Regions from separate parts of the Homo sapiens genome. Here region 1 is linked to region 2. The links come from fine-mapping of genetic effects on gene expression. Tissue or cell type: whole blood. Region 2 holds a variant in brackets; the other region holds the start of a gene. All regions are shown on one strand. Distances are from middle to middle. Region 1 holds the start of ICA1L (islet cell autoantigen 1 like). Region 2 overlaps WDR12 (WD repeat domain 12).

The links. PIP is the estimated chance that this variant, and not a neighbour inherited with it, causes the effect.
Region 1: ICA1L starts here. The variant in region 2 is fine-mapped to the expression of ICA1L in whole blood (INTERVAL, PIP above 0.99).

Annotation. Positions count from the first base shown.
Region 1 is chr2:202,870,639-202,873,138 of GRCh38, forward strand. It overlaps ICA1L (islet cell autoantigen 1 like), which reads right to left and starts at 1,128. Exons shown (of 13, transcript NM_001288622.3): 1 at 981-1,128. RefSeq lists silencers at 671-1,160, 1,201-1,250, 1,311-1,440.
Region 2 is chr2:202,906,946-202,909,981 of GRCh38, forward strand. WDR12 (WD repeat domain 12) reads right to left here. Exons shown (of 13, transcript NM_018256.4): 2 at 920-1,014. Among named protein-coding and RNA genes, the nearest start is that of WDR12, 3.2 kb to the right of the region's middle. The variant G/A (reference allele first, on the strand shown) is at 1,569.

The DNA.
Region 1 (2,500 bases), 37 kb before region 2:
CGTCTTACAGTACGTCGCCTGAGTCAGAACCAAATAAATCAATACATAAATACTTTTGGGAAAAATCAAAACCATGGAAAAATGTTACCTTCCCAACAATCTATTTTACAGAGACCCATAGTTTATAACAGCTTTTATGCTGTGTGCATCAAGATCATCTATTACACGAAAAATGATTCCACCCCCTCTACTGGCAACGCCCCAGCATCGCGGGTGAGCTGCCAGGATGGACTCCCCGCTTTCCCCTCTCCGTCTTCCTTAGAGCATCAGGTATCTGACCACTGACATCACCTGGGCACCTGACCAGCTGACGCGCGTTTCCAGGAGCCATATCTGTGCCGTGGGGTCGGGTTGCCGGCCTAAGGAGCAGGATCTGTGCGCGGAGCCCCTCGCGGGCCCGTGCATTCTGCAGTTCAGCTCAAACTGCACATTTACTATGTTTTGTTTTTATCCATCGGTTGCCAATTAGTTTCTAAGGAAGACATTCCCATTACAAAATAATAGCGAAATAAAAATAAGCACCACGTTAAAAAGAGGTCAGCAGGGAAGCACCTGAAGGCTGTTCGGGTGATCCGCCGCCGCCTCTATTAGGAGCGACCTCCACCGCCGAGGGAAATCACCCAAACGAGCCCCAGGCTGCCGCGCTCCTTCACTACAGCGAGCGTGGCCGGGAGGCGCCCTTCCGCCGCAGGGGACCCAGCCACGCCAGAAACCGCTCCTTGCGGGTTTTGCCTGGGGGGAGGCCGGAAGAACCCCGAGCAGGGCCTCGCCTGGAAGAAGGCCGCAGGCAGCGGCCGGGGTCCCCCAGAGAACCGAGGAGGCCAGCAAGGCCCCGAGAAGCCGCGCGCGCGCGCGTGTGGCCGGAGCCTCCCGCCGCGCCCCCGCCTCCCGGCGTCGCCATGGGAACCCGGGATTTGGTCTCCGGGCCTGACCGCCGCCTGAGGGGGAATAGGGGCGGACAGGAGGCAGCAGAAGCTTACCGGCGCCGCTCTTCCGCCTCCTCGGGTCGCGTTCGGCCGTACGGTGATCCGTCCCGGCACCCGTTCCGGCCACCGCCCGCGAGCCCCGCGCCGACTCCCGGCCCTCCGGCAGCCAGTGCCCCTCCGCACCAGTGCGTGGAGGTGTCAGGCTCCCGCTGCGGGAGGCGGGAGATTTAAACCGCGCGACCTGGCGTCCGCGTTCGCCCCCCTCGGGCGCCGGCCTGACCCCGCCACCGGCCCGACTCGGGATCGGAGCATCTCTCGGTCTGCTCTTGAATGAACTCGGGGACCCTCTCTATTCCTCCTTTCCCGATTTCCTCTTTACTTAATAAAGTGAAATGACAAACACCAAACCGGTCAGAACATTACGAGGAGCTGAGTGTGAGCTCTCTGAGGCGTGGGGAAGTGGAAGGCATTGGCCCGGGGCCCTCCCGGCTCCCTCCGAGCACCCCCACCCCCGGACCTGCCGGGCCTTCTGGGGCGGCCCCTTAGCACCAGTGCTCCTTAGGCGGAAAGCGTTCGCCCGCTGTATTTAACTCCCGTGTTAAAGGTTTAAAGAGGTCTAAGTTAACAACCGTTCATAACCAATCTCAAATGCACATATCCATATCCATAATGTTTATGATGAATCTTCAAGAGTAAAAGGTAAAACCGGATCCTGAAAGTCTCAGGAAAAAAACAAAAAGGAAGGCAAAACTATTTACTACTAGTAGGAGATAATTTAATAAATTCAAACTTCATTCTTTTTAAAGGTGACTCCAAAACTTAAAAGAACTTTCCTAAAACAGCAGAATACGAATTATTAATTACAACTGCGACACATAGGCTAGCAAAGAATTAAAAGGTTAACACTCGAGGTGATAATTAAAATCTGTATGATGACAAAGATGGGGTGAGTCTAGAATTTATTTTATTTTATTTTATTTGAGACGGAGTCTCGCTCTGTCGCCCAGGCCGGAGTACAGTGGCGCGATCTCGGCTCACTGCAAGCTCCGCCTCCCGGGTTCACGCCATTCTCCTGCCTCAGCCTCCCGAATAGCTGGGACTACAGGCGCCTGCCACCACGCCTGGCTAAGTTTTTTGTATTTTTAGTAGAGTCGGGGTTTCACCGTGTTAGCCAGGATGGTCTCGATCTCCTGACCTCGTGATCCGCCCGCCTCGGCCTCCCAAAGTGCTGAGATTACAGGCATGAGCCACCGCGCCCGGCCGAGGTTCTGGAATATTAACAGTACAAAATACTCACCTTAACCTGGAAATTATACTTTTAGAATAGGAAAAGTGGCAAGCTACAGAGGGTTAATTTGGACTGAAAACATTAAATGTCTTTAGACTTTTACCCTGAGATATTTGGATTTCAAGGAATAGGCAAATACCTGAGATTATGTGCAAAATTTTGTTTGTTTTTTTGAGGAGTCTACAGCTTTCCTCAGAAGGGTAAAAATTAGCGTTTGGCAAACATGAGTGATTGACCTATTTCCTTGGGATGGCTTTCCTGAATCTTACCAAATGAGGCATTTCTC
Region 2 (3,036 bases):
CCAAACTTCAACATTTTTTTTTTTTTTGAGACTTCCTCTATCACCCAGGCTGGAGTGCAATGGTGCGATCTTGGCTCACTGCAACCTCCGCCTCCCGGGTTCAAGCAATTCTCCTGCCTCAGCCTCCTTAGCAGCTGAGATTACAGGCATGTGCCACCACGCCTGGCTGATTTTTGTATTTTTAGTAGAGACGGGGTTTCACCATGTTGGTCAGGCTGGTCTCAAACTCCTGACCTCGTGATCCACCCGCCTCGGCCTCCCAAAGTGCTGGGATTACAAACTTCAACAATTATTAACTCATAGCCAATCTTATTTCATTGATATTTTTACATACATTGTTCATATTAATTTAATGGGCAAATAACTTATATTAGTACAATAGTATATATTTAATATTTGTATCTTTTAAATGTTTTATATTCTTCCATGTTTTGTTATATCCTTTTTTTATGAATTCTGGACACAAAAAATAAAATACTGGTATTCATACTGTCATTTTGATATTACACTAAACACTCAAATACTGATATTGTCATTTTGCTTTGTGCTTCACTAGTAAATGGGGCCTAAGCACTAAAACGCTTGTTTTATGCCTGCATAACTCAGCCCTCTGTAGAACAATCAATGTCTTGATTACCTCTATATTACAACTTTATACCAAAATCTTTATTCCTTAACTACAACCACCATATTTCCACATGGCCTTAAAAACAGATTAAACAGAAATTTTTTTCTGAAAACTTTTCTTTCAAAGCAGTATTTACAGTATCATCCAGCAGAAGAACCTGTACTTTATAACTTACAAATTTTACCACTACAAAATTCATACAGTATCATAAGGCCAAAAAAGGAACTAAAAACTTAATGCATTTTAGAATAATTAGGGACACTGTGCCCTCTCCTAAGCATATATACCCACCATTTTTGTCCTTTAGTAGTTTATTGATGATGTTACTAAGGTCGGCAATTTCAGAGGCAGCAGGGATTGAGAAGGGAACATCATCTACGGCATATCTATAAAAAGGAAATGATATGTCAAGATCAAGTCTACAGATATTTGAACAAACATGCTTTTACGAATTCAACATACATTTATTGGGTAAATAAATGCCAGACATCCAGACATTTTGCTACATGTTGTAAACAAAAATGAATTAAAACATGGTCTCTGTTCTAAGATGAGGTTGAAGTTTAGTAATCAAATAGAATGAAGTTATATAAGAACAATGCCATTAGGTGACATGTATAAAAAGAACAAAGACACCATAGGTCATTTTAACCACAGAAAAGGAGGGCAGGGGAGCAGGGCCAGAAACGATCCACAGAAAAGATAACTGTTAAGCAACATTTAGAAAAGTGATTAGCCAGGCGTGGTGGCATGTGCCCGTAGTCCCAGCTACTTGGGAGGCTGAGGTGGGAGGACTGCCTGAGCCCAGGAGGTCGAGGCTGCAGTGAGCTGAGATTATACCACTGCACTGCACTCCAGCCTGGGTGACACAGCAAGACCCTGTCTCAAAAGAGAAGTGAGTTTTTGCCAGGTGAGGGAAGGGTAGGCTGGAAGAAGCAGT[G/A]TGGACGAAACCAGAGAGAACATCAAAACAATAGCTAGGAGTTGTTAAACTGCCCAGCCACTTCCAGAAAATCTGACTTTGCTCCAAAGTGACCAAAGGCTAAAGAGATACACATGGAGTGCTTTATATATCATGTGAAATCATTTTTACTTCTTTTTTGTGGGTAATGAAGAACTATCACAGCAGTGCAAATTAGAAGTATCATCAGATTTTATTTAGTTAGATCTTTCTGGCTGCACAATGGGCACTGAAATAGAGGAACACATGACAGGAGGCAGATTAGGAGACTCTTATAAGAGAGACTGTGAGAAAATATTTGCAAATCATGTATCTAATAAGGAACTTGTATCTAGACTATATTAAGAACACTTACAACTCAATAATAAAAAGACAACACAAATTTTAAAATGGCCCAATAGGGACATGCAAATGCTCATCATTAGTCATCCAGGTAATGTTAATCAAACACAATGAAATATAATTTCACATCCACTAGGGTGCTATAAGTAAAAAGACAGCTAATAACAAGTGTCAGTGAAAATATGGAGCAATTGGAACCCTGATTATTGCTGGCAGTAACGTAAAATGGTGCAGTTGCTTTGGAAAACAGTCTGGCAGTTCCTCAAAAACTCAAACATGGAATTACATCTGACCCAAAAACTCCACTCCTAAGCATATATGCAAGAGAAACGAAAACATACATCCACACGAAAACTTGTACGAGTGTTCACATAACAACTATTCATAATAGCTAAAAGGTATAAACAACCTAAATGCCCACCAGCTGATGAATGGAAAAATATGGTACCTCCATTCAATGGCCTATTATTTGGCCACAAAAAGGAATGAAGTGCTAATATATACTATGATATAATGAAACCATTTTTTAAAAATCATAGTAAGTGAAAGAAGCCAGTCACAAAAGATCACATTATATAATTCCATTTATTCAAAACGTCCAGAAGAGAGAAAGTTACAGAGCTAGAAAGTAGATCAGTGGTTGCCTAGGGCTGGGGGTATTATTTAACAAACAGCTCAAGGATGATGAAAAATGTTCTAAAATTGACTGTGGTGATGGTTGCACAACTTTGCAAATATGATGCTGATGATCCTCAAACCACACTTTGAGCAATAAGGCTATAGCTATATATTTATGTATATAATTCACATATATGTATATTCTTGTGTGTGTGTGTGACAATTATATTAGCCCCCCGCCTCCATTTTACTGACCATAATATTAAGCAAAAAGAAAAAGCAAGAATTTTATTATTTATTTATTTATTTATTTATTTATTTGAGATAGAGTCTCACTATGTTCCCCAGGCTGGAGTGCAGTTGCATTGATCCTGGCTCACTGCAACCTCTGCCTCTCAGGCTCAAGAGATCCTCCCACCTCAGCCTCCCAAGTAGCTGGGACCACAGGTGGGCACCACCATGCCTGGCAAATTTTTTGTATTTTTGGTAG